Linked DNA regions of Homo sapiens: all the other regions are linked to region 2. The links come from fine-mapping of genetic effects on gene expression. A gene starts in region 2. Each other region holds a variant in brackets. All regions are shown on one strand. Distances are from middle to middle.

Region 1 (2,768 bases), 410 kb before region 2:
TCCTGACCTCAGCTGATCGGCCCACCTTGGCCTCCCAAAGTGCTGGCATTACAGGTGAGAGCAACCGCGCCCAGCCTTCTTCTAGGGTTTTTATAGTTTTGGGTTTTGTATTTAAGTCTTTAATCCATCTTGAGTTAATTTTTATATAAGGTGTAAGGAAGGGGTTGAAAATCAGATGGTTGTAGATGTGCAGTCTTATTTCTGAGTTCTCTATTCTGTTTTATTGGTCTATATGTCTGTTTTTGTGCCAGTACCATGCTGTTTCGGTTATTGTAGCCTTGTTGTAGTTTGAAGTCTGGCAGTGTTATGCCTTCAGCTTCTTACTTTTTGCTTAGGATTGTCTTGGCTATAAGAGTTCTTTTTTGGTACCATATGAATTTTAAAATAGTTTCTTCTAAATCTGTGAAGAATGTCAATGGTCGTTTAATGGGAATAGCATTGAATTTATAAATTACTTTCGGCAGTATGGCTATTTTCACGATATTAATTCTTCTTATCCATGAGCATGGAATGTTCATCTGACAAAGGTCCAATATCCAGAATCTACAAGGAACTTAAAGAAATTTACAAAAAAAAAAAGCCATTAAAAAGTGGGCAAAGGACATAAACAGATATTGCTCAAAAGAAGACATTCATGCAGCCAAGAAACATGAAAAAATGCTCAACATCGCTAATTAGAGAAATGCATATCAAAACCACAATGAGATACCATCTCATGCCAGTCAAAAAGTCAATTATAAAAAAGTCAAAAAATAACAGATGCTGGCGAGGTTGCGGGGAAATAGGAATGCTTTTACACTGTTGGTATGAATATAAATTAGTTCAACCATTGTGGAAGATGATGTGGCAATTCCTCAAAGATCTAGAACCAGAAATACTATTTGATCCACATCCCATTACTGAGCATATACCTAAAGGAGTATAAATCATTCTATTACAAAGATACATGCACGTGTTTGCTCAGTGCAGCACTATTCACAATAGCAAAGAAATGGAATCAACCCAAATGCCTATCAACTGTAGACTGGATAAAGAAAATGTGGTACAGGCTGGGTGCAGTGGCTCATACCTGTAATCCCAACACTTTGAGAGGCCAAGATGGGTAGATCACCTGAGGTCAGGAGTTCAAGGCCAGCCTGGCCAACATGGTGAAACCCCGTCTCTACTAAAAATACAAAAATTAGCCAGGTGCAGTAGCACATGCCTGTAATCCCAGCTACTCAGGGGGCTGAGGTAGGAGAATCACTTGAACCTGGGAGGTGGAGGTTGCAGTGAGCCAAGATCATGCCATTGCACTCCAGCCTGGATGACAGAGTAAGACTCCATCT[C/CA]AAAAAAAAAAAAAAAGAAAAAGAAAAAAAAGAAAAGAAAAGAAAAGAAAAGAAAAAAAGAAAATGTGGTACATATACACCATGGAATACTATGCAGCCATAAAAAGGATCGAGATCATGTCCTTTCCAGGGACATGGATGGAGCTGGAAGCTGTTATCCTCAGCAAATTAATGCAGGAACAAAAAACTAAACACCACATGTTCTCACATATAAGCTGGAGCAGAACAATGAGAACACATGGACACAGGGAGGGGGACAACACACATTGGGGCCTGTTGGGGGGTAGGGTCAGGGGAGGGAAAGTATCAGGAAATAGCTAATGCATGCTGGGCTTAATACCTAGATGATGTCTTGACAGGTACAGCAAAACGCCATTACACACATCTACCTATGTAATGAACCTGCATATCCTGAACATGTACCCTGGAACTTAAAATACAAATTAAAATTAATTATAAAATAAATAAAACTTTAAAAATTTAAATGCACACTTACTATATGACATAGCAATACCTAGGAATATGTGTAAGAAAAATAAAAACCTGTCACAGAGACATGTAGGTAAATATTCACAGCAGCATTATTCATAATAGCCAAAAACTGGAAATAATTCAAATGTCCATCAATTGGGAAATGGACTTTTTTAAGTGCCATATCCATACAATGGAAGGTTATTCAGCAATAAAAATGATAGCACTACCATACATGCTACAGTGTAAATTAACCTCAAAGAAGAAGTCAGGTGCAAAAAGCATAATTACTCTGTAATTCATTTATATAAAATGTTCAGAAAAAGCAAATTTATAAAAAGAAGAGAAATCAGTATTAGCCTAGAGGTGAATGTGGAAGCAGTGATTAACTATAAATGAGTACAAGAAAACTTTAGAGGTAATGGAGATGTCCTAAAACTGGAATGTGATGATGATAGCTCTGCTGTATAAATTTATTACAAATTATTGAATTGTATACTTATAATAGGTAGACTTTAAGATACATAAATTATACTTCCATAAAGCTGTTAATAACAAAAAACTACATTACATTGGAAGGTATCTGGACATAAACTACTTGATAAGCAAGAAGTCTACTGATTTTAAAGACATCCCCAGAATTTTAAAATTCTGGCCGAATTTTTGGTTTCTCTTTATGTAGTCCCAATCAAGGTAATGGAGAGTTAACTTAGTTTCCCCTATTATGAACCCATCTTAAATGTGGAAGGGAAGAAAAAGAGTGAGTCAGCTCTCACATGACCCAAACTTGTTGCTTCGTCTCTAAAAGTGAGTCATGAAGGCAACTTTTTCCTTGCCTATGAACGTGTTTGAGGAAAAACTATGTGCTTGGTTTAGCATCATTGACCACAATAATTATAGTGCATGAGAATTTATGTTGTATATAAGACTGCTAGATTGGTGGTGGGGGTTTAAGGGACTCAATGCCTG
Region 2 (2,768 bases):
TTCACGTAACAATGTTCAGCTTGGTGATTTTTAAAGCAACGCTTGAACAAAGAGTTACTGGCTTGAACCAACCGTCTTTTTCACTCAGAGTGTGACCTATTTCCCTACAATGAGCAGAAAATAAAACTGTTTGAGAATTCAGAGCCAGCACCAGGAGAAATGAACCATTCCCTCGACTGCTTCTCACCTTCATAAGCGAAAGATTATTCCTTGCAAGATCACCAAATGTAAACGAGAAAAGGTGGTCTGATTTTGCCACGAGTGAAAACTTTGGGAAGAAAATGCTTATTAAGCTGTTTCCTTGGTTCCCCTCACCCCTCATACTTTAAGTCAGTGCCTTGTCTCTCACGCACAAAAAGCGTCTGGTACTTCGGTGGCAAGGAGTGCAGTGACAGATGGAGGTATCCTGTGTACCATTATAGAAGGTTTTCCTCTAACCCAAGTTAGACTTGGAGAGCTCAGGGATCTTGCTATCTCTCAACATACAGAACATTTCTCCTTAGAACTGCAATCCGGTTTAGAATGTCATCGTTGCTGCTGCCTCCCTTCCTTTCAGGAGCACATTCGCCTGCGTGCGCACTCACACACACGTTCAAAAAGAGTCCATTCGATTCTGGCAGTAGGCTGAAAACGATCCATATTGACGCGAATAACATCCCAACTGTAAATATGGATTCGTCTACTCGAGGCTGTGTCTCATTTCACCATAGAGGAAAATTATGTCATTTAAAACAGTGATAAAACGCGAAGAGTTTCGATCTTCTGTAAATGGCTCTCACTTTGAATTGTGGGGGAAAAAAATCACTAATTGGGAATAGCCAGAGAAGGGGGAATTTGTTGAGCGCCCAAGGCCAATCTCAAAATATTTTATTTCATGCCAATGTGGGAGAGGGAAGGGAGTGTGGCTTCGCTGTTTGCCGCTTTTGCATTTTCCACATCTGGCCTACAGACCTAATTCTAACTTGCGATCTCGCTTGATGAAATTCGATCTTCGTGGTTTAAATACCTTTCAATTTGGGACGATTTAACCATTGCAGCAGTTCAAAAAACAAACCCTGAGCATTATCTGTAAAACCAATATGGAAAAAAGAAAGAAAACATGCTGCAAACACACAAATCGCAACCATTGTCTTTAACACTCGCATACACACACATACACATAAACACACGGAAAGATGGGGGAGGGGAGCGAGTGGAGAGAGAGAGACACACGGATATAGACCGACGAGAGTCAATGCGAGTCAAGTTAACGCTTTCTCCGCCCCGATGCACAAGTACCCCCCTCCCGTGTTAATTAATTCCAAACAAAGCAAGCCAATCAAGAAATGCATTATTATTTTCAAGCAGAGAGAGACGAGTGCCATGTATTTTTTAATTGATTTATTTATTTGGAGGACATTAATTCTCGGTCTGAGGCTGATTTTCAAACCGTTTGCAAAGCGCGGCTCCATTGTTCGCCAGGCGCGCAGACCCCGCCCCCTGCTTTGTGTGCGGCGCGCGGATTGGCCGACGCGCGCGGGGGCCGCGTCAGCGCCCGCGAGCCCATTCATCTGTGCACTTGGGCGTTGGACCCCGCATCTTATTAGCAACCAGGGAGATTTCTCCATTTTCCTCTTGTCTACAGTGCGGCTACAAATCTGGGATTTTTTTATTACTTCTTTTTTTTTCGAACTACACTTGGGCTCCTTTTTTTGTGCTCGACTTTTCCACCCTTTTTCCCTCCCTCCTGTGCTGCTGCTTTTTGATCTCTTCGACTAAAATTTTTTTATCCGGAGTGTATTTAATCGGTTCTGTTCTGTCCTCTCCACCACCCCCACCCCCCTCCCTCCGGTGTGTGTGCCGCTGCCGCTGTTGCCGCCGCCGCTGCTGCTGCTGCTCGCCCCGTCGTTACACCAACCCGAGGCTCTTTGTTTCCCCTCTTGGATCTGTTGAGTTTCTTTGTTGAAGAAGCCAGCATGGGTGCCCAGTTCTCCAAGACCGCAGCGAAGGGAGAAGCCGCCGCGGAGAGGCCTGGGGAGGCGGCTGTGGCCTCGTCGCCTTCCAAAGCGAACGGACAGGTAAATTCTACCTGTGGTTGTGGTCATTTATTTCGTGTCTTTCTCTCCTTCCCTCCTGGTGGCTCCCAAGGCTCATTCGTGGAGAGGAGTGTGGCTGGATTCTAGTCTGAAAGTTGAATGGAAATGGATAGCCTAAATTGTGGATTTTTCATAGCCGGGGTCCCCCCACACCAAAGGAGTGGTTCCTTAGAATCCTGGAGAATTCTTGAGTAGACGGGAGGAAAGGAGTGATAAATCGTCTAAAATGGCGTGGTTTGGAGATTGGCAGAACGTGACTAGCTAGGTGCCCTCCTTCCCCCGCCCCCAGCCAGGTTTCATTTGTGTTTGGGGGCACAATGGTGTTTGGGTGTCTCTCGGGTTTGTTGTCGAAGCTGGATTGTCTTCGAGATTTCTGAACTGGTGGTGTGATTGTGTGTGGCGGGGGGGGGAGTCGGGAAAGGGGGGCGCAATGGGGATGGTGGTGGAGAAAGGCGAGGAGGGAAAGGCTGTCTTATTGTATGCCGCGGCGGCGTGCCCTGGGTTCTTGGAAAGGTGGCTGGCTGGGGCCAGACAGAGGGCTTCGGTACCTTTTGATGAGGCTTTCCCACTGTCCTAAATCTTTATTCGTAGCTGTCTGTGGAATTACACATCCATTTGATTTTTAAATGGTATCTGTGGGGTGGGAACACTCGGTGGGTCCTTTAAGAACCTTTCCAGATGGTCAAAAAGAGG
Region 3 (2,768 bases), 390 kb before region 2:
CTTCTCAAAAGAAGACATTTATGTAGCCAACAGACACATGAAAAAATGCTCATCATCACTGGCCATCAGAGAAATGCAAATCAAAACCACAATGAGATACCATCTCACAACAGTTAGAATGGTGATCATTAAAAAGTCAGCAAACAACAGGTACTGGAGAGGATGTGGAGAAATAGGAACACTTTTACACTGTTGGTTGGATGGTAAACTAGTTCAACCATTGTGGAAGACAGTGTGACGATTCCTCAAAGATCTAGAACTAGAAGTACCATTTGACCTAGCCATCCTATTGCTGGGTATATACCCAAAGGATTATAAATCATGCTACTATAAAGACACATGCACACGCATGTTTATTGCAGCACTGTTCACAATAGCAAAGACTTGGAACCAACCCAAATGTCCATCAGTGATAGACTGGATTAAGAAAATGTGACACATATACACCATGGAATACTATGCAGCCATAAAAAAGGATGAGTTCATGTCCTTTGCAGGGACATGGATAAAGCTGGAAACCATCATTCTCAGCAAACTATCACAAGGACAGAAAACCAAACACTGCATGTTGTCACTCATAGGTGGGAATTGAATAATGAGAACACTTGGACGCAGGAAGGGGAACATCACACACTGGGGCCTGTTGTGGGGTTGGGGGAGCAGGGAGGGATAGCATTAGGAGATATACCTAATGTAAATGGAGTTAATGGGTGCAGCACACCAACATGGCACATGTATACATATGTAACAAACCTGCATATTGTGCATATGTACCCTAGAACTTAAAGTATAATTTTTTTAAAAAAGTAAAATGTAAATAAGTAAATAAAAATAAATATATCTGTGAGGCCAGGCATGGTGGCTCACACATGTAATCCCAGCACTTTGGGAAGATGAGGCAGGTGGATCACTTGAGGTCAGGAGTTTGAGACCACCCTGGACAACATAGCAAAACCCAATCTCTAGAAAAAATACAAAAATTAGCCAGGCATGGTGGTGCACAACTGTAATCCCAGCTACTCAGAAGGCTGAAGTAGGAGAATAGCTTGAACCAGGAGGCGGAGGTTGCAGTGAGCCGAGATCATGCCACTGCACTCCAGCCTGGGCATCTGTCTCAAAATACATATGAGAATAAAGTTTTTCTGTACTTTATGAGGGCTCTTATTTCTTACATTTAGGGACCAAATTAAAATGAAACACATTAGAGTATCTACCACTTACATTTTGTTTCAATTTCAATTGTTTTAATTTGCACAGAACTTCATGCCAAAACTTATCCAAGAAAATATTAGGGTTTCAGATATTGCTTTACATGATTTCTATCAAACAATATTTAGATGA[A/T]CAAAATACTGTTTTGCATGTCCTAGTCCCTGGAGAGCCATGAGTAACCCCTTGTATTCAGGAGAGAGAACCATGGAAACAATTCTGCCTACAAGAATGCAACGTGTTATTTTTCTGACAATTCATATTCTGATCAAACCAGCAATTAAACTATCTAAGCACTACAGAGATAAAATCAGATTAAAATCAAATTATGGCACCTGGTCAACTACTTCTCCAAATAAAAACAAGAAGAGACTCAATATTCCCTTTTTAAAGATGCCAGATGCTTCAACTCTTAAGATAAATATAAACAGCATTTAACAAGTTCTAGCTCATAGAGGCAGTGCCTTCTCTAGTGTATCCTACAGCCCTCACAACAAACTTTCTTTAGCCTATGTATTTCTTTCTTGCTTTATTTTTTCAAGTGTGTGCATGTGTATGTGCACGCACACACATAAGTGTTTTGAAGTTTATCCCTGTATGAAATCACAGCCTATTATTATAGTAAAATATCCTAAGCTACAAGAGGACAGGGGTAATGTCTTTTTTATGCACCTCAAATCCCCAGTGCTTGGCACAAAGCAGATGCTGAGTATTTTTTAATAAATTAGTGAATTAATAAACTATTGCCAGGATTTTTACTCTCACATTCTCTTTCACTCTGTATAAAAATTGCTTTTGTCAAGGCTACCCATAACCTCCATTGCTAAATACAGCTGTCAATTCTCAGTCCTTATCATATTTGACTCATCCACTGATTTGACAAGGTTAATCACTGACTCTTGTTTGATGGTCTACTTCTTACCTCATTGTTCACTCTTTTCAAGCTCTTTTGCTGGTTCCTTTTCTCCCTGAGTTTCGAATGTCAGGGGTCCTCAGGATTTGAGTGGTGGAGTTCTTTTTTCTTCAATGATTTCACTCACTCTCATGGCTTTAAATGACATCACTAACTTCAAAGGTATACCTGCAGCCTAACATCACTCCTGAATTCTAGACTATCCAGTACTTACTGACATCCCTACTTGGATATCCAACAGTCATCTCAAACTTAACACTTCCAAACTTGAATTCCTACCTTCTCCCCATGCACAACCCCCCTTCTGGTCCAAAGACATTCCATTTGCACTTCTCTCCATATCACTTGGTGGTTTCCAATCCTCTAGATGCTCAGGTAGTTGCTATTCCTACCACCAGCACAACTGGAGGTACCACCAGATGCAAGACAAATGGCTTCTCCCTTTCTTGAATTTATATTGTTCCATCACGTTTTTCCATTGGCAGATCCTATCTGGAAACCAGTTGGCAAAAGAATCTGGGCATAGTAGTTTGCAAGCTTCCAGCTCCTTGGTAAAGAGGAGAGTTTAGAATGGGTGAGTGGAGCCAAACACCTGCAGCCATTATCTGCTGTAACCTTCTAATTTGCCTCTCTATTTCCACCCTTATCC

What was found. PIP is the estimated chance that this variant, and not a neighbour inherited with it, causes the effect.
Region 1: its variant is fine-mapped to the expression of MARCKS in whole blood (INTERVAL, PIP 0.98).
Region 3: its variant is fine-mapped to the expression of MARCKS in whole blood (TOPMed, PIP 0.91).

What each region holds. Positions count from the first base shown.
Region 1 is chr6:113,444,659-113,447,426 of GRCh38, forward strand. No RefSeq gene overlaps it. Among named protein-coding and RNA genes, the nearest start is that of LINC02518, 13 kb to the left of the region's middle. The variant C/CA (reference allele first, on the strand shown) is at 1,329.
Region 2 is chr6:113,855,791-113,858,558 of GRCh38, forward strand. It overlaps MARCKS (myristoylated alanine rich protein kinase C substrate), which reads left to right and starts at 1,555. Exons shown (of 2, transcript NM_002356.7): 1 at 1,555-2,057. The coding sequence starts at 1,956. RefSeq lists enhancers at 310-369, 390-439, 710-1,255, 1,256-1,799, 1,587-1,636.
Region 3 is chr6:113,468,848-113,471,615 of GRCh38, forward strand. No RefSeq gene overlaps it. Among named protein-coding and RNA genes, the nearest start is that of LINC02518, 37 kb to the left of the region's middle. The variant A/T (reference allele first, on the strand shown) is at 1,342.